Regions from separate parts of the Homo sapiens genome. Here all the other regions are linked to region 1. Evidence: fine-mapped expression QTL. A gene starts in region 1. Each other region holds a variant in brackets. All regions are shown on one strand. Distances are between the middles of the regions.

Region 1 (5,153 bases):
GCTTCTCTGGAGGTCACTCCAAACCAGGAAGCTCTCAGGTTGCTGCTTACACAGCATCTACAATGTAAGAGATTTAAATCCTGTACTGGGCTCTTTCCTCACAGCAGAATTTTTCAAGGAAATTCTATAGGGCCCAGTCATCCGGTTCCCCAAGGGGACTTAGGGTCCCAAAAGTGAGGAGCTGTTGGCCTCCCTCTGGTGGGTAGAAGCCGCAATTACAGACTTTCTGGGAAACCGGCCTGGCCACACCCTTCCTCTGAGACTTTACCTACTAGCGTTAACAATGATTTATGTTTGGATGGTGACATTTGCAACTTAGCATTTAGCCTTTCGTTTGTTCTTAGGATGGACTTCCTGGAGGCCAGAGCTAGAGGCTTTCTCACTCCGTAATTAACACGTGCTAAGAACTGATCTGAGCCCTTAGCTACACAGCTGCAGATTGATTCCTCCTTCCTGTACAGCCTTTATGCTGCAGAGATCCTAGCTGAGTCTTGCCTCCCATTGCATCTTACAGCGTTAGAACCCCTGAACCCTAAGAGAGGTGGACTTTTTCCCAAGAATCACATTGTTGGAGGATGATTGTTTTTGTTTTGCTCTAAATTGAACTTTTCATTAAGAAAAGTGTTGGTAGGTTCAGGGGCCTTTAGGGGAGAAACAAAATACCACAGCCTAGAAACAGATGTGTTTGTTCTGTTACAACATGCCCTTCATATCAGGCCTAAAATCTCCCTGTCTTACTAAGGTATCAGATGACAGGAAGGAGACTGGCTGGGAGGCCACACCAGGCTGAGGAGCATGGGCTTTGTCACCTTTCTCTGGAACTACAGATTCTCCCCCTGCCCCTTTTCCTTCCAGAATGCAGACAGTTTTGCTTTTCCAGTTTCACAGTGCCTTTCTGCTTCACATTTTTCTCTCCTTAACATCAGTCTTGGTGTAATTTAGAGATTATTTTCTTTTGAAAACTGTTGCTGTTGCTATCAGCCACAAGGAGAAAATTAAAACCTCTTTGCATTTCCTCCCAGAGGTAATTCTCCAAAGTGAAAGAAAGAGACACAATTATCAAATTACTAAAATGGAACGGCATAATTTGTAGAGCTCCAGGGCACTTTGGAGATGGGTCCTGAGGACGCCCAGAAACCGGAAAGCTCTGCCCAGGGTGGCGCAGTGGCTGAAGGAGAGGAGAACCGGCGCTCTCCACACCTCATGGCACTCTTGGAGTCTTACTTGGTGGGGATGGCGATAGCAAGGAGCAAACATTATGATAAACGGATACTGTGAAATAATTTTTAAAAATGCATGCTAAGCGCTCAACATTTGAGGAAAGAAAAAAATACGATGAAAAAGACGTAGCAATTTTAAAAACCTCAACTATTGTCTTCTCATTCTTAACCAACACCCTCCGGAGCTTTCTGTCCCTGCTGTAGCAGGACTGCAACCCCAGACAGTATGGAAGGGAATGGGCGTGGCTCTGTTCCAATACTTCATTTATGGACGCTGAAGTTTGATTTCCACATAATTTTCACATGTCAGAAAGTATTTTTCTTCTTTTGATTTCTTTCAATCATTTACAAATGTAAACTTTATTCTTAGCTTGTGGGCAGAACAGAAAACCCGACTTGGCCCGCGGGCCAGTTTGCTGACTCTCCACTAAGGAGAGGTAAAGAAAGAGATTTTGGAGGTGGAATTATGGAAAATATGAGTTCAACTGGGAGATGAAAGGAGATAAGAAGAGAAAAATAAGTTACGGAGTGAGTGCCTAAATAGATGGTGGGGTAAAAGGAAGAGGAAGGAGGAGAGGGCTCAGCTGGGACCGGGTTCCTCCCACATTCTTGGCCGCGGCGCTGCGGGCGGCGACGGGCTAAAGTTTCAGTCCCGTTGGGTCTTGGCCGTCTGCCGGGTGCTTACTGAAACTTTGATTTTCCCTGGGGCTAGACGACCAAGTTCTAAAATGTCCCTTTTCTGGTGTACAGAAATAACTAGTGACCCCTCGCAGCTTTCCAGCCCCCTGCCTTAAACTTGCTCCTAGGCGTCTCTGGGCTCCCGGGAGACCGCGGGCGAGGGGCTGGAGGCAGTGACCCACGACGGGTCCCCCCCCCGCGCGGTGAGCGGCCAGCACTTCCTCTTCCCCAGCCCTGGGCCTTGTCGTGACTGGGAAGGCTAAAGAACCTCCGCTGCTACCCTAGGCGGCCACCCCAAGGATGATTTTAGGGCTTCATCCTTCCATCCCTTCTTCCCCAGTTCCCTCCCACGAGGCTGATTTTTCCTGCTGTTTCCTGCCACGTCCACACATAAGTCAAAGATAAAGTCTGCTGGGAAGTATGTGGGTTTTTTTTCTTTTCTTTTTCTTTTCATGTAAGAAGAAGAAGAAGAAAAGTGAGGCTTACCATGTTGGAGCTGAGCGAGGCGCGGGAGGCTGTGGCTGGGAGCGGCGCTGAGAGCTCTGTGCGCGCGGCGTGCGGGTCTGGAGCCTCTCCTCAACCCACGCCCTTCCCGGCCCAGCCTTGCCCAAGCCTTACTCAGACAGCTTCCGCGCCTGCCCCGCCCCTCCCCGCCTCCCGGGCTGGGCCTGGGACCGCGGCCGGCGCTAACCACAGAACTGAGCTTTAAGACTCAAATAAACCCACCGTCCTCTCCAGCGATTTAAGCAGTCTCACTCTCCCTCCTTTCCCTCTTTTCCCTCCTCTTTCCCCCCGGCCCCCTCCACCCCGTCCTGTGATTCCTGAAGATTTTTGACTTTTTAGAATTATAAGTTTTGCACAGTAGTCTTCGGGAAGTCTGTCCATGTCCGTGGGTCTTTCCCATGTATGAGCTCATTCTGGGCATTTAGGTTAGATAGGCAAAAAAGGTCTCTTTTGGAAACAGCAGTGGGCCGGGCGCGGTGGCTCAGGCCTGTAATCCCAGCACTTTGGGAGGCCGAGGCGGGTAGATCACATGAGGTCAGGAGTTTGAGATCAGCCTGACTAACATGGTGAAACCCCTGTCTCTACTAAAAATACAAAATTAGCCTGGCGTGGTGGCACACGCCTGTAATACCAACTACTTGGGAGGCTGAGGCAGAAATATCGATTGAACCCGGGAGGTGGAGTTTGCAGCGAGCTGAGATCGCGCCGTTGCACTCCAGCCGCCTGGGCAACAAGAGCGGAACAATGTCTCAAAAAACAAACAAAAACAGGCCGGGCGCAGCGGCTCACTCCTGTAATCCCAGCACTTTGGGAGGCCGAGGCGGGTGGATCACGAGGTCAGGAGATCGGGACCATCCTGGCTAACGCGGCAAAACCCCGTCTCTACTAAAAATACAAAAAATTAGCCGGACGTGGTGGCGGGCGCCTGTAGTTCCAGCTACTCGGGAGGCTGAGGCAGGAGAATGGCGTGAACCCCGGAGGCAGAGCTTGCAGTGAGCCGAGATCGCGCCACTGCACTCTAGCCTGGGCGACAGAGCAAGACTCCATCTCAAAAACAAACAAACAAAAAACAAAACCAAGAGTGTTAGTTAGGACAGAGTGCGGGTCAGAATTGTAGACAAGTTCCTAGGAGTTGGGGCTCTCTATTGCTCCACAGGGAAGATATTTAACAGTAAACAGTGGTGAGTATTGCCAAATCAATTGCCACGGGATTACTGGGGATTATTGTCAAGGGACAATTGCCACCCCTCTCTCTCAAACTTTTCTGTAAACTGAGGACAGCCACAAAGACAAAATCCGAAAACCAAACTACTGCACTTAAAAATTGATCCGTGCTAGTAAGGCATTTATCTGTGTGCAGTTTGCAATGAAATTAGGAGTTGTATTAAGAATCAGAAGACTTGGGTTCCAGTCTTGTGTCTGTTACTTCATTGCAATACTTTTGACCAGACTTGTCACTCCTTTGAGCTTCCACTTCCTTATTTGTAATAGGTCTTGAGATAGGCCTTTCCTGTTTCATAAGATTGTTAGGACTGTCAAGTAAAGTGAGGGCTTAGAAAGGTCTCCAAAAACTGCAGAGTAGACGCAAATGAAAGATAATGGGCTATAGGCATTGTGTGAACTGCTTCCCTGCACCTGCTCTCACAGGTGCCCTGAGCACGTGAGACAAATCTCCATCTCAGTTCTCAGCTACTCCAGACCCACATTTTCAGTTACTTGTTTATGAATCCACTTGAGAGTCCCACCTGCACTTCAGACTCAATAATTCAGGAATAACTAGTTTTCCCCAAACCTGTTTCTGTCTTCTCTGCTAAGGGTACTATCACTCTACCATTTTCCCTGCTTGAAAGCATTGGAGCCACTGAGTCTAAATGCCTTTTTGACTCACAGTTCTTATCAAGTGCCAGGTAATAGACTTCAAACCTTTGGTGGTGGGGGGTGTTACATGAACGGCTGCTGGGGTTCCTTAATACCTTAAAGTTACATGTAAATTTTTTGCATAAGAGAAATTTTTCTGGCGAAGAGTCCACATCTTTCATCTGATTCTCAGAAAAATTTATGATCCCAACATATTAAGGAATCATTTGTCTAAATTACTCCATAACTCAATCATGAGGCCTTACACACCACAGTTCTTTTCTTTTTTTTCTTTTTTGAGACGTTGTTTCACTCTTGTTGCCTAGGCGGCTGGAGTGCAACGGGGTGATCTCAGCTCACTGCAACCTCCGCCTCCCGGGTTAAAGCGATTCTCCTGCCTCAGCCTCCTGAGTAGCTGGAATTACAGGTGTGCGCCACCACACCCTGCTAATTTTTTGTGTATTTTTAGTAGAGACGGGGTTTCACCATGTTGGTTATGCTGGTCTGGAACTCCTGACCTCGTGATCTGCCCTCCTCAGCCTCCCAAAGTGCTGGGATTACAGGTGAGAGCCACTGCGCCCGGCCACTATAGTTCTTTTTAAGAGAAAATGCCTCACTTAGAACCTGTGCTCAAGGGGCAGCCCAGGTGGCCAAGTTTTGCATGATTTGACACACTGTGACCCTGTTAGAGTGGACTGGGTTGAAGTTAGTCTGGACACCAGCACTGCCAATCTATAGGATGGCTGGTAGTGGATGTTTCATGACATAACATGGAAAGATGAACTAGGGCCAAAAAGCTTCTTGTTTTTGGGAAACTGAAATTAGAAGCACATAGAAAATTAGGCATTTAGAAGAGCTGAAGCTGAACATTTGCATAGACAGAACCATGAAGTC
Region 2 (5,153 bases), 47 kb after region 1:
GTGTGTGGCCCTGGATGGGCCCCCCTGTGGGGCTGTTGGGGGTGCGGGGCTGATCTGCCAGAGCCCTTCCGCCTGGCGCCCGGCCCAGGTGCTGGCTGGCACCCAGTGGCCCTGTCTTGGCCGGCCCTGTCTCCCGGGTTACAGGGCCAGAACCTGGAAGCAGAGCGCAGGACCAGCCAGATCCCGCTAGGCTCCCCCGGGTCCTCTCCAGTGCCTCTGTGCCGCCTGGAGCCAGGCCCGCCTTCTCCATGGCTGCTGTGGCCTCAAGGGCCACCAGCCCCGCTCCGCAGGTTTCCAAAGAGAGGACGCGGTGCCCTGACCTGACTGGATGCGCCTCTTACCACATGCCTCCCTGGCAGGCAGTGTCTCCACTTTTTACAAATTTGCCTGAGACCATTCCTCAGGTCATTCAGGTGGTCATGGCCCAGCCAGGCTTTGAACCTGGGCTGTGTGATTCCACAGCTGGCGCTCTGGCCTGTGTGCCTCATGATCATGGATACAGCATCTATTCTTATTTTTTCCTGTAGTCCTGGGGTACTTAGCACCATGGCATATCTGTAATAAGCACATGCACACCTTGAAGGAGTTCTTCACTTCAGCATACAAGTTGACCATGGCATGCTCTGGGCTCCAGTCCTCTACAAAGATGTAGGGCAGGAACTACCAGTTGTCAGCACAGCACCATCCCACATTACTCTTCTAATGGAGCCTTTCACCCCAGATGTTCTTTCTTGTTTGATGGGAAGGATCCAAGTATGTAAAGATTATGTTCTAGATCAGCTTTGGTCTGTCCTAAAAGAAATTTGCCAGTGGATTATTCCATATGGATAAAAGTCAGTTTCTCTGGTCTTCCTGGAATGTGTCTAGAAAGCAAATACATTATTTACAAGTTCATAGTAGATCAATGTATTGGATTAAAATATGACAAACATAATTTGGTCATTGTGAGCATGCCAGCTCGGTCAACTATTCACCACACATGATGCCCTAAATATAACTCTAGGTTTTCTTATGCCCAAGAGAGGGACATACTTTTGGGTGTCTGGACTAGGAAAACATGTATGAAAAACCATTTGACCACTCTACATCTTGTTATTGGAGAATTGAAACCATCTATATTCAAAGATATTATTAAAAGGCAAGAAGTTAAAAAAAAAGAAAAACTATTGAGATAACAAAGTGGATTAGATATGAAGAATAAGACAAGGTAAATGATGATTCCAAAGTTTGTGCCTTTGAAGCATGATAGAATGAAGATTGAGAGAATGACAGTAGGAAGGAAATTGAGAAGACAAGCCAGTTTGTCTGGAAGTGGTTGACAATAGAAGGCGTCATATCTGTGAGCATTTGTAGAGACTGGATTGAAGTGCACAGTCAGGTTTGAACAAGGTGAATTGAGACTCATCAGTGTGAAAGAGATAATAGTAAGTTGGACCAAGCATGGGTTCTCACGAGGAGAAAGTTCATAAAAAGAAGAGTCCTTGGAAAGGGGGCACAGTCTTGGGCACTGGATGAGAGGAATTAACTAGGGAGATGGGGAAAGACCACTGAAGGGAGTATTTCATGAAAGACAGTCATCAATGCCCGATGTCCAAAACTGTGGAAGCTGGAGGTCTTTAGGCTTGTTGGATGGAGGGCAACATCACCTTCAAAGGAATACTTCTTGAAGGATGATGGCAAAAACATATATATATATATATATATATATATTCAGCAAACTTTTCTTCTTTCTGCCCACCATTCTATTAGTGCTGATTGCTGGAATGCTAAGAGAGTGTTTAAAAATTGTTGCTATTAAGTTTTTAATTTTTTCAGTTAAGAAAATAAAATATGCTTAGTACAGAAAATTTTGATTTCTTTTTCTATTTTAGTAGAGATTAGGTCTCACTATGTTGTCCAGGCTTGTCTCAAACTCCTGAGCTCAAGTGATCCTCCTGCCTTGGCTTCCCAAAGTGCTGGGATTACAGGCATGAGCCACTGCCCATTTATTTAATGCCGTCAGCAAACCATATAGGTAAACGTTTCTGCTTTTTGGCTGTTCTTGTTCCTCTGTGAGTTGTGCATCCTTTTCTATGACTGCCAGCACCACTGCCACTGGAGCTGTTTTGTCATTCACATTTTCTTCAATTCTAGTGAGGATTTCGAATGTTTATTGGCCATCTGTATAGCTTCTTTTGTGAATTTATTAATAATGAAGTTTTTCATTTTTATGGACTCAGATACTTATTGCCACATTGCTTGCCAAAAGGGATGACGAGTTTATGCTCTAGTATGTATATATTTATTTATACTAAAATTATCTATAATTATATATAAATAAAAATTATATATAATTTTATAAACTAAAAATTATGTATATTTTATAAACTAAAAATTAGTGTATAATTTTATAAACTGAAAATTATGTATATAATTTTATAAACTAAAAGTTATGTATATAATTTTATAAACTAAAAGTTATGTATATAATTTTATAAACTAAAAATTATGTATATAATTTTATAAACTAAAAATTATGTATATAATTTTATAAACTAAAAATTATGTATATAATTTTTTCCTTTAGTAAGTCTATGCTCTAGTGTAGTACATATGTATGTTTGTGTATGTGTATGTATATTAGAGCATGGACAAACTAAAAGAAATATATATATTTTTCTTTTTTATGAATTGTCTCATGTTTCTTGCTCATTTAAAGTAATATTTTTTTCAGATAGGGATATAATTCATATTTGAGTGTAGAATGAAAAGAGCTG[A/C]AAATATTGGAGGGGGAGGTTATATACTTGGATTTTAGGCTCTGGAAAATGTGAAGGTTGAAGTGGAAGAATACTGAACCTCGAAGGCAGAATGCAATGGGAGATGGAGTATTGGACTGCTTTTTGGCTTCAGGAAACATTGTATGATAACAATTTTATTCCTTTCCTGGGTCATGACTAAGCTTGAAGAGCATCATACTTTAATTATAGTCTTTTGAAAAAACACAAATAACTAAGATTGTTTTCGTTTTTGATCAGTGTCTCCAAGGCAAGACGGAGAATGAGGGGAAAAAAATGACCCAACAAAAGAAATTGATCATCAGGTTGTTTAATTATCAATTTTAATTTAATACCCTCATCAAACCATATAGGTAAACACTTAGTAGACTCACTGGATGGTTGGTTACAAGAGCTTCTTATAAAATCAAACATACTTTAGATTTGTGTTTTCTCTCATAATTATTCTTGATTGTTTATTTGAGCCAAAAGCTATGAAAAGTTTGTGTAAGGAGTGGGATTTAATAAAAATTTGTTGGATGAGTAATTGAAAGAATGAATCCATGGCGATAGATTCAGCTGCACCTGAACATGAGCAGAGTCATAAATTTACTTTAATCAAGTGCTAGAAAATCATAATTAAGTTATGGCATTGTCTAAAATTATTTTGAAGGATAAAATTTTAGGATGAACTTGAAATACTTCTAGGAAATGTCATGAAGCAGAGTAATCTATATATATGAATTAATATTTTATGATTATGAGATATTATTGCAGAGTCTTATAATTTCCTACTGCTCTATTTTAAATTCAATGAATCAGTTGGAAAAACTGGCACCTGCTAAAGATATGGAAGGAATTTTTCCATTTTTAATGACAGGTACATTGAGATAAACTGTCTCATGACAAAGCCCATTTTGGCATTTGGAAGTAGCATTGTTTGGTAGGAGTTTTACTGACTGTATTTGTTTGCTCAGATGTTTCTTTAGTGGTGTCCCCCACTGCTGAATATTTTATTATTTGTTTTTGTAGAAATTTAGGAAGAGAATTTAAAAGATTGTTAATCTGCATCTGAATGTGTACACGTGAGTATTGAGGGTGATTGGGAGAGAAATTGGGGGCATGTTGAGATGATAATGATTCATTGCTTTGTGGTGCTTGCCTCCCTTTGTAGTACCAGCCTCTCTCTCTGAGGGTGACCTTGCTTATCTTCCAAGGCCTGGGGAGCTGGTGTTTCCTGTGCACCAGCAGGACTCTCATCAAGTGGAAGTCCCCTGGTATATGGTTGTGATGCTTGGCTGTAGTTGAAAAAGACAGAACAATCTGAGATCTCACTGGTGAGGGATACACTGCAAAGCTCTGGGCCTGATGCCTGGGCTATCTGAACTTGCTTTTGATGCTCCTCTTGGGTTACATTTGTTTGCTGCAGTATCTTCTCCTGTAGGTACTGGTATAGTGGACTGGAATAGACTGCACCCCTCTCCACAGAACAGGGCTCTTGGTCTCTCTGCATCTGCTTTTCAAGACTTGACCAGGGGACTGAAGAATTGTGCTCTTTCTTGGCTGGACTTTTTTGGTCACCACCTTCTCCTGCCAGCTCTTGGGGACTTTCATCTTCCTCCTCTGATGTTACAGGTTCCTTTGTTTCAAGTTGTATCTTGAGGGAGGCTGAATTGTCCTCATCTAGACTTTCTAACAGAGTATTCTGGGCCTCTGTTGCTCTTCCTTTCTCTTCTTTGCTACTTGGGCCTTGGACCTTTAATTCATTTCTGCTATCTCCCTTTCCAGGGAGCTGCATTAGGGAAAGCTGGTCAGTGAAGTCTTCATCCAGGGCACCTGTGATCTCTATTTCCAGGGACTTTCTATTTTCATCTCCTGCTGTGGATTCCTGTGCTTCTGGGTGTCCATTGGGCTCCACAGCTGCACCTGGGCCTTTGGTCCCTGGGCCTTGATTCTTGTGTTCTCCTCTGGCAGGCTGTTCCTGGTCCTCTGTGAGCTGTACATCCTCTCCTCTGACTGCTGGTACCACTGCCTCCAGAGCTCTGTTTTTCTCACCAGGTGTTCCCTGCCTCTGGGTATCTGGGTTATTATTGTGACCTCCTTGCACAGACTCTCCATGTTGGTCCCCTTGACTCTGGGAGTCCCCTTGCACAGGCAGTTCACCTGTCTCTGAGCTGCTATTGCCTTCCTCTGAAGCCAGGCTGTTGGGAGTTTCAGAAGACCCCTCATCACTCTGTGTGAATGGTGACTCAGGGTCCTCCCCCTGGTAACCATCCTCCTCCTCAACTGGTTGGTCATGAGTCTTGGTGACCCTAGTATTTTCTCCTACAGACTGCTTCTCAAGTGGTGCTAAATCTTGTGTTCTTTCTCTTGCCCCCAGTGTCCTTTCTGCTGCAGGTG
Region 3 (5,153 bases), 610 kb after region 1:
AAACACTAAAGCTATTTGCAATGACAGGTATGTCTATAATTAGAAGACTGCTTATGAACCTACACTGCGATCAAATAGCATATTTTCACTTCTATCTGCTTTCCATTTCTTCTGTTACATAAGCTCACTCCTCCAAACAAGCTCGGCTGAGTACATATTCCTCAGTGTCACTACACTTCTGGTGATGTTTTCTTATATCTCATATTTCACACACACACACACACACACACACACACAGACACACACACACACACACACACAGACACACACACACACACAAACCCTGGGAAGCTGCCTAGTTACCCACCCCTTAGTCAAGCTCTGCCTTGGCCTCAGGCTCTCTGAAGAAGGGCTCACTGATGATTGTGGACTATGCAGGGCTGAGAGAGTGACCGGGGCACACTTTAAGTAGGAAACAGGAACTTTATTTTTGCAAAGAAAATGGAAGATAAACAGAATGTTCTACGTGTGGAAATGCCTACATTAGCTTTGTGATCTACCATCCCCAGGATGTCAAAATGAGGGAATGGAAGAATGAGAAGCAAATTGTTTGATGCTTTGTCCCATGTGTACTTCAGAGGTCCTCAGGACCCAAGGCAGCAGCAGCTCCCAGAGCTGTGGCAGCAGCTGGAGCCCTGTGAAGGCTCACATTCACAGCAGCTGGAGCTCTGGGGTCTGTGGCAGTGGGACCTGTGGCACCTGTAGTGCTCAGGCAGCAGCCACCACCTCCTGAGCTGCAGCAGCCCCCAGAGCTGGAGCCACGGCAGCCCCCAGAGCTAGAGCTGCAGCAGGAAGAGACTGGGCATAGTGCTGTGCACTGGGATGGACAGTTTGGGGGGCATTTCAGAGTACACTTGGAAGGGCACTTGCAGGGGGCTGACACTGCTGCTGGTTCTGCTGGCAGGACATCTGGGCAGGTGTTCAATCAACCTGGAAGAGAATAATGACATGGTATGGATTAGTTAAATCAAGGGGCATGTTTTTTACCTGCTCTAGAATGAGTATGAAGGGCGATAGTAAATGATATTTAGAAAACATAAATAAGCATCCAGAGGAAACATATAAATCTTTCCTCTAATTAAAAGTACATAGATTTTAAATGCAGATGTAGTAAACAACATCTTATTCTCCTTTATAATAGGACACAAGGATTTCTCAGTCTTCATAGTCCTGCATGCAGCATTCAAAACTCTCTGAAGTGCCACCATATTATTATAAAAACAAGCCCCTAAAATAGATGAGGTTGGCACACTTGCCTTTTGGCCCAGGGCAGTTTCCAGAGTGGCAAAGTGCCACTGACATCTTAAGCCACAAGGCAATAGTTTCCTCTCCCTCTGAATTTTATTCCTGTTCAGTATGGCAGAAATCAAATACATAACTCTTTTTCCTAAGACTCTTTACTTCCTCCAATCTCTCTGTCCTTCTCCAACCCCTCTGGTCTCCCAGGTTCTCATTCATCCTGGTCACACAAAAGAGCACAGACATGTCCCTAGGGCGTCAGAGCAGATGAGGTGCTGGAGCTGGGTATGTGTCTTTTATAGACCCAGGCTTGGCTCCAGTAAGAGCAGGAAGTGGCTCTTGTCCAACCAGGCATGTGCTCGGTGATCTGTGACATTCCCCTCTCTCCTTGTCCCTGCAATTCAAGGAGGCCTTGGGAGCTCCCAGGACCCCTCTCTGGGGCTAGGGTCTAGACACGCTTTATCCAGTTGCACCCTCTTCTAGGCTGGAGCTCTGAAGGGTTAACTTGGGATGCACAGGGAGCCAATGTCTGGATAAAGATGCTATTTGTTCTTTGGGAAAACTCAGGTCAAAGCCATATTTTATTTTTTATTTTTATTTTTCATTGTGGAAACATTCCGTTCTGATTTCCCCCACGCTTGGGGTTTGTCTTTGAGGTCCTGCTTTAGGTACCAGCCATTCCTAGGCTGGTTGTTCTGGAGTTTTGAATTAGGAAGAACCCTCCCCACCCAGCCATCCTTCCTGGGACCTGTCCTTCAGGGTGGACTCTGGGTCTCTGCTTCTCCCTCAGCTGTCCTCTGAGGAGCAGCTGTGCTATTCTGATTTATTTTACTTGTGAGGATAGTGATGACTGAGCTGATTTAGTCAAAACAATTAACTCTTTCTTAATTTGGCAAGAGGAAGGCAGGCTATAGAGGTCATGTCTCTGTAACTATAGTCAGGAAACCTGGTGTCAATTCTAGCTGTAACTCGTGACCTTTGAAATATCACTCATGTTTCCTAGGCATCTGTGTTCTTTTTAAAATGATCAATGAGTACCCTAATACTCATTGATTTGAACATTAAGAAATGAAAATATGTAGCATGTGTTTTGTACGTAGAAGATGCTCAATAATGCATGCTAAAACAAATTGACAGCATCTAGGCCTTATGGGGGGTTGAAAGATGGTCACTTACGGTTGCTACTTTTAAGGAGCTTATCCCTAAACTCTAACAAGTGGCCTGAGAAGGGCTTGCCATCCTGGGGAGCTTCTAAATCTGGAGTCCAGTTATCCCTGGGAATGAGGAATGGGAGATGACATTGACTGAGGGATTGAGTACACTTGACATTGAAAAATCAGGGAAGAGTTGGGTTAGACAGATTTTTTCATTTATTGAAGGCAGTCATTGTACCATTCATTGTTTGAGGAGCAGAATAAAGCTGTGAACTAAATGGCAGTGGCCACTCCCTCACTGAGGTTCCCAAATAAGGAGAAACATATGACCTCTAAAAGTCTCTTTTAGAGGTGCTCCATTCTCTATTTATTTATTACCTATTTTCAGACAAGGTCCCTACCCTCCACAAGCTTTCAGGCCAAATGTAAAATAGATTTAAAAAATGAACAAAGTGTTTGGTTAAATGGACATTCATTTAGCACACCAGATGAGGTCTGTGGACATCAGTCTGGAATTTGGGATTTGGATGTGAATCAGACACAACCTCTAACCTTGAGAAGCTCACAGTCCACTAGAATCTCTGAAGCACTTCTTTGCATGAGAAAAGCCCATGAGGTCCAAAGCAGGTGGCTCTGAATTTCATCTCCTGAATCACTACTTTGCAATGAGATATGTGAGATACTTTCATTAGTCCAAATTTTTCTTTGGTGTT[G/A]TCAGCCTGAGTTTCCTCATTCTCTGTGAAGAGATGTTTGTAGCAACCATGATGGAGTGAGAGGCAGGACTGAAGTGTATGGGCATTTACATGTGGTGTGTGTGTGTGTGCATCCATCATCCATGCATGTACACACACACACACACACACACACACACACTTATATACTTAATTGGCGGTGGGTACAAAAGCACAAAAAAGCCAATTCCCCTGGTTTTTGGTGGCAGGGGATAGAGAAGCACTTCATTACACTCACCGGTGTCCAAGTATTTAGTGTGCCTTCTCACTGTTCCATGTACTGAAATGCATATGAAACAGCATACTATTTCACAAAGTTGTCCCTACTCCATAAGATTTCTTACTAGTATTTTAAAACATTATAAGATATGTGTGTTTATTTCTATAATTCTGATCCTATCAGAATGTGAGAGCTGCTGAGTAAAGAAACCCTGTTTTCATCCTCTTGGGTCCCCGTAAAGTGGTTGTTCAAATAAATAAATAATTATGTTAGATGGATGAGTAAATAATGATGAATGCCAGGGTGATGATTTCAGAAGTTTATCTCCAAGTCCCTTTAGACTGGGAATCAATAACCTCCAAGGTGGTATCTCTAAATGTCTCCAGAACCTCTTCATTCATCAGAAGGTCTTGCTAGGACCTCAAATCTACACCCCTCCCAATATTTGTTCTCTTTCCACCATATGATTATTTCTCTGGTCAAGACATTTGATATCTGGTCAAGACATTTGGTATAATCTTTGATCTATCCCTTTTCCCCATCACATATACACAAAGGGACATCCAGTCTTGTAGATTCTTTTGAAAAAACTCTCTTAAAGTTTTCTATCCTCTCTTTCCTATTTGTCTCATCTAAGCCCCACCTCACAAAGCTTGGCAAGAAAGATGTGACCACCTATTTCATGAGAAGGGACTGGCACGCAGCGACCCAGGCCTTAGAGCCTCAGCCCAGTGACCAGGTTCTTGGGATCTCAGGCTATCTGAGGCTTATATTTGGGAAAGGGTGTGGCTCGTTGAAGGCCCACAGGTCTTGGGCCCCATTGAGAGGCTGGAGTGCTCCTACAGCTCTTTTGGAAGGAGAATGTCAGGAATGGCCCTAAGTGTTCCTTGGTTGTGAGAGATTTTCTCCTGCTCTTTCCAGAGACAAGGCTCATTTCTGAGCCCAGCCTGGGGACTCCTCCTATGAAAGGTGTCCCTGGTTCTTCTTCTTCCTCCTTTTGGACACCTCTGCAGCCTGAGCTAATTCTGAGACTCATCCTGGTAAGTGTGTCTGTGCAAAACCAAAGGACATCTCTGGATTTGGCAGTTTTGTGGTTTTCAGATGTTTACTCTAAGCATTCTTGTACATGTCTTCTAGGAGCAGAATTGCTGAATCTTGGTGTATTTAGTAGCTAAGAATTTAAATTTATAATGGAGAGCTAATCTGTTTTTCAAAATGATTGAATTTTTATGCCCAATATCCTTAAATAAATTTGAAACGATCTACTCCTTTATAGTTTTGTACTGTTCGCCTAGAAAACAATTTTGGCCATTGTTTTCTATGTTTCTTAATAGTACTTTAGTTTCTCAACTAGTTATAAGAGAATTCATACTTTTTGTCTCTTCTTGAGCTTATTTTACTAGATTATACTTTTTAATGTATGTTTTCCATTTTGTCTAAGCTTTCAACGTTGGCAGTGTATAGTTATTGACAGTCTTTCATTTTTATATTTTGTTCTCTGCTTTATTATTGTTATGAAGATACATAACTTTTTAATTTATAATATTTGATGATAACTTCTCTTTTTTTAACCTAGATTAGTCTTGCCAGGGTGGGTTTTCTGGGTATTTGTTGTTGTTGCTGTTTGTTTGTTTGCCTATTCTGGAATTGGGACTCCTCTATTTAAAAATATTTCTCATCCTTAAGGATGAGAGTTCTTGCCAAGTTTTCCTTTCAACTATTTTCAGATCCCAGGGTATGGTGGTCAGGGAGCTACCATGGAGGATTAAGTCCCCTCTTGAGTAAAGCCAGGGAAACATAGAGAAACCC
Region 4 (5,153 bases), 760 kb after region 1:
ACTTTTCACTAGCTTGAAGAAGAAAAAAGAGAAGAATCAAAGAACTAAAATAAAAATGAGAGGGAAGGCATTACAACTAACTTATAGAAATAAAAAATTATAGGAGAATACCATGAACAATTGTATGCTAAATTGGATAACCTAGATGAAATGGATAGATCCCTAGAAACAAATCTGAAAAGACCTATAACTAGCAAAGATCAAAACTCTGCCAACAGAATAAAGTGCAGGACCAGACAGCTTCACTCATTAATTCTACCAAACATTTGAAGAGAAATCAACACAAATCTTACTCAATGCTTCCAAAAAATTGAAGAAATGAGGACATTTATGAATTCGTTCTCTGAGGCCAGCATTATCCTGATGCCAAAGCCAGAAAACTACATAACAATATCTCTGATGATATTGAGGGATGATAAAAATCCTCAACAGCATATCAAAAGGATTATACACCTTGACTAATTGTGAATTATTCCTCAAATAGCCAAACCAATGCTGAAGAAGAAAAATATAGTTAGAGTCACATACTTCCTGACTTTAAAACTTATCACAGACAGACATAGTGGTGCATACCTGTAGTCTCGGCCACTCAGGAGGCAGAGGATAGAGGATCCCTTGATCCCAGGAGTTCTAGACAAGCCTGAGCAACATAGTGAGACCTTGTCTCTAAAAAAAAATAAAAGTAAATTAACACAATTTATTACAACAAAGCAACCATAATGAAAATAATGTGTTATTGGCATAAAGATAGACATATAGGTCAATGAAATAGAATAGAAGAGTAGCAGAGAAACTTAAAATAAATAAACCTTCATATATATGGTCAAATTATTCTTTTTTTGTCCAAAAACAGGATCTTGCTATGTTGCCCAGGCAGGACTCAAACTCCTGGACTCAAGCAATCCTCCTGTCTCAGCCTCCCGAGTAGCTGGAGCTATAGGCACAAACTATCATGCCTAGCTGATTAAAATGATTCTTGATAAGGGTGCCAATACCACTCAATGGAGAAAGGACAATCTTTTCAACAGGTGGTGTTGGGAAATTTAGATATGCACATGCAAAAGCATGAAGCTGGACCCTCAGGTTACACCATACACAAAAATTAACTCATTAAGGATCAAAGACATAAACATAGAGTTAAAACTACAGGCTGGGCGTGGTGGCTAACCCCTGTAATCCCAGCACTTTGGGAAGCCAAGGCAGGCAGATCACAAGGTCAAGAGATAGAGACCAGGCTGGCCAACATGGTGAAACCCCATCTCTACTAAAAATACAAAAATTAGCTGTGTATGGTGGTGCATACCTGTAGTCCCAGCTACTTGGGAGGCTGAGGCAGGAGAATCGCTTGAACCCGGGAGGTGGAGGTTGCAGTGAGCCAAGATCATGCAACTGCACTCCAGCCTGCACGACAGAGCAAGACTCCATCTCAAAATAAATAAATAAATAAATAAACTACAAAATTTCTAAAAGGAAACATAGGAGGAAATCTTCATGACATTGGATTTGACAATGATTTCTTAACTATGATACCAAAAGCACAGGCAACAAATGTAAAAATAGATAAATTAGACTACATAAACATTAGAAATGTATGTGAATCAGTGAACAAAGTCAATACCATGAAAAGGAAATCTTTGTTATGGGAGCAAATATTAGCAAATCGTGTATCTGGTAGTGGGTTGCTATACAAAATATGTAAAGAACCCCCACAATTAAACAACAAGTAAACAAACAACCTTATTAAAAATGGAAAAAAAAACTTGAATAGACACTTATCCAAAAGAAATTTACAAATAGCCAAAAGACACATGAAAGTATGCTCAACACCATTCATAATTAGATTAAATTATTTAAAGTAAAACCCACAGTAAGATATCACTTCAAACCCGAGAGAATGACTACTATAAAAAATAAAGCAAAACAAAACAGAAAATAACAAGTGTTGGTGAGGATGTGGAGGAATTAGAACCCTTGTGCACTGTTGGTGAGCATATAAAATGGTATAATTACTATGAAAAAGAGCATGGTGATTCCTCAAAAAGTTAATAGAATTAACATAGGGTCCAGCAATTCCACTTGTGGGTATATACAATACAAAAAGATTGAAAGTAGAGTCTTGACAGGGTACTTGTACACCCACGTTCATAGCTTTATTATTCACAATAGCTAAAAGGTGGAAGCAATCCAAGCATTCACTGCTGGATGATTATAGAAGCAAAAGGAGGCATACACATACAATGTGATATTATATGGCCTTAAAAAGGTAAGAAATTTATGCACATGCTACAATATGAATGAATCCTAAAGATATGCTAAATCAAATAAGCCAGTCACAAAAAGACAAACACTGTATGATTCCACTTATGTGAGATATGGGGTGTAGTCCATTTCATAGAAAAAGAAAGTAAAATGGTGATTGCCAGGGGCTGGGGAGAGGGAGTAAGAGAGAACTGTTGTTTAATGAGCGTAGAGTTTCAGTGTTGCAAGAAGACAAAAATTCTAGAGATTGGCTACACAACGATGTGATGCTATTTAACATTACTAAACTGTGCACTAAAAAAATGATTAAGACAGTAAATTTTGGATTATGTATTTTACCAATTTTTTTAGGAAAGTATTCACTGCAAAAATTTAGGAGAGTTCAACACAGTTGCAGTATATCAATATATTAACAATCATAACAACAACAGCAATAAAAATATTTTTAAAATATACTATTTAAATAGAATAGAATTTTCTTCTAGACTTTAATAGTATTTTCTCATCACTGTAATTGTTTAAAGGGTTGTAGATATGGAAAGAACAAAACAAAGATTACTAACTTAACTTGTTACTGGTTATAGAACACATACAAAAAATTATTCCATTTGAATTATTTCTGGTTAGATCGCAATAGTATTCACTCACATCCCATGAGACGGTGAATTTTTGACTACCTAAAAGAGAAAAACCTTGACAAA[T/C]AGGAAATTTCAGAAAGTCAGTGCTTTGCTGGACAAGATATCTTATTTGACCTAATAGCTAAGCCATGATATCTCATAGCCAAGATTCAAGTTCCAATCTTCCTAATACAACTATGTTGCTGACTCAACACCTACATCTGAGTTATGTCAGTTGAGAGCTTGGGTGTTGCCCTGCATGAAGACAGAGGCATGGACCAGATGGTATCCCAGCCCTATCATCCTAGATACCAGGAGTTGAACTTCTGAGTAGACCTGCCATTGTGACGACCTGGGAACCAATGTCCTGACCACTCCCCCATTACTAAGCCCTTTGGAACAATCTGAGCAGGAGAACAAATGTCATACCCAGGAGGGATGGTGTCAGACCTCTCAGGGTGATGTGGCCCACACACCTCACTGAGCCTGTCTCAGAGTGTGTCTCCTATGAGGGTGGCCTGAGTCATAAGGAATAGCTGTTTATAAACTGTAAATCAATGCTAATACCAATGAGAGCATTTAAAAGTCATTAAATATCCATTGTGCACATAGCTCTGTGTTGAAAAACGGAGGTAAGAAGTATGAAACACCCAAGGCAGGCCATCAAAGCATTTACTGTTATCTCATTAGAGTGATATGCCACATGAAGGATAAATAAAAAAGTGGGATTGAGCCACACTGTCCTGGAAGGGTAGAGGCCACGGCATGCACTGCAGGGAGAAGCATAATCAAAGTACAGAATATAATCCAGTTCAGTTTCAGAACATTTCTGAGAGTAGATGACAAAGGCTTAAACTAAAGGGAGAACACAGAGTCTTATTTCACTGAAGGAATTTGGACATTTACCCTTATACAGTGTGCAATCATGAACAAGACTTTACTAATGATTTAGTGTTAATTATGTACAGGGATGGAAGATGTTTTCTTGGATGTCATAAAAGAACAGAATCAAAGACACACTACAGTGTTTGGAGATACTACGTTATCACAGGAGTCTGGGCAGCTGTAATAATTGATGCTCTGAGACAGGTGGTACACACACATATACATCTCTCTCAATATGTATGCTCTGTATATGTGTTTATAAATATACATGTATCTCCACCACGTTTTGGTTAGGGTCACCATGTCCATTTTGACCTAGATATCATTCCCAAGTTCTGGGCATATCCAGAGTCTGTCAGGGGCTGGGAAGAAGAGGACTTGTCCCTCATATGGTTTAATCTGGCTTTTCTTGGTCTTCCTCTGAAGAAATAGTTTAATTTGTGGATAACCTTGCAGTCATGGCTGTCTTAGTGACTAGTGTGTCCTAGAATGAACAGCAGCCCATTTCATTAATATCCTAAAAATGTATAAATTCAGAACACTCCATTCATATAAATCCTGTGGACATGTAGAAAGCTAGTGATTCTAGTGGAGAGAGAGGAGAGGGGCTTCCAAAGTAGCAGCATAAACACATTCACATTAAATATTAAGGACTCTTGTTCTTAAAAGGCACCCGTCCCCTTATGGTCCAGGACGGGGTTCTGCCAGCCATTTGACCCCACATGGAAGCGTAGACTTATAATGTCTCACAACCATGTCTCTTTTCTTCCTGTTTCTCATCTGTGACCATCATCCGGTGCTCCCAGTGTGAACCCAGAAAAGTCCAAATTCTCACACCAATACAAAGAGCAGAGCTGCTGCTTCTTGTTTCTCTAATGAGCTGCTTCCTTGTTCACATCTCAGTGCTGACACATCAAGGACCCCACCAGAAGAAAAGGGCTATTTAAAAGCAAACAGATCACCAAACAGCCAGACTCACTCTCATTAGAAAAAAGCTGTGCTTCGTTTGTTAAACAAAGATCAGTATCTTCATTCTGTATTCAGCAAGTTATGAATGTTTCACTTATTCAGAGCCTACAATGTTTCAGTCTCTCTGTCAGGCACATTTTCTCTTTTTTGTGTTACTTTATTGACTTTCACAACCAACTAATTCTTCTGTAACTAATTCTTTTTCATCTTCCAGCTTTATGGTTTAAAAAATGGTACAGGCTAAATAGTTTCAACAGTCCCATCTCGCAGGGCCTGGTCCTGGGCCGGGTTATACTTCCAGGGTTTTACTTGTGTAGATGTCTACACTGCACCCACAGCCACACAGTTTGGTGGTGCACAGGGACAGAAATAAACATGCATGGAAACCTCAGGGATTAGTACTTCAACTTCAACCCAGGCTGC

Alleles and levels. Positions count from the first base shown, and alleles are read on the strand shown. Sizes are in standard deviations (SD) of each study's normalised expression. Not every link is listed here.
As copies of A replace C in region 2, the expression in whole blood of the gene that starts at base 2,476 in region 1 goes down (small effect, 0.25 SD a copy in GTEx).
With allele G in place of A in region 3, the expression in monocytes after LPS of the gene that starts at base 2,476 in region 1 is higher (large effect, 1.8 SD a copy in Quach 2016).

Evidence for each region. PIP is the estimated chance that this variant, and not a neighbour inherited with it, causes the effect. A credible set is the group of variants that fine-mapping cannot tell apart.
Region 2: its variant is the best candidate, but not a certain one, in a credible set for the expression of S100A11 in whole blood (GTEx, PIP 0.74).
Region 3: its variant is the best candidate, but not a certain one, in a credible set for the expression of S100A11 in monocytes after LPS (Quach 2016, PIP 0.79).
Region 4: its variant is the best candidate, but not a certain one, in a credible set for the expression of S100A11 in B cells (Fairfax 2012, PIP 0.74).

Annotation. Positions count from the first base shown.
Region 1 is chr1:152,034,529-152,039,681 of GRCh38, forward strand. It overlaps S100A11 (S100 calcium binding protein A11), which reads right to left and starts at 2,476. Exons shown (of 3, transcript NM_005620.2): 1 at 2,385-2,476. The coding sequence starts at 2,387. RefSeq lists enhancers at 545-839, 3,937-4,096 and a silencer at 1,685-1,979.
Region 2 is chr1:152,081,073-152,086,225 of GRCh38, forward strand. TCHHL1 (trichohyalin like 1) reads right to left here. Exons shown (of 3, transcript NM_001008536.2): 3 at 3,069-5,153. The coding sequence ends at 3,895. Among named protein-coding and RNA genes, the nearest start is that of TCHHL1, 5.4 kb to the right of the region's middle. The variant A/C (reference allele first, on the strand shown) is at 2,757.
Region 3 is chr1:152,643,809-152,648,961 of GRCh38, forward strand. It overlaps the pseudogene LCEP4. Among named protein-coding and RNA genes, the nearest start is that of LINC00302, 9.1 kb to the right of the region's middle. The variant G/A (reference allele first, on the strand shown) is at 3,107.
Region 4 is chr1:152,791,236-152,796,388 of GRCh38, forward strand. No RefSeq gene overlaps it. Among named protein-coding and RNA genes, the nearest start is that of LCE1D, 2.9 kb to the right of the region's middle. The variant T/C (reference allele first, on the strand shown) is at 2,961.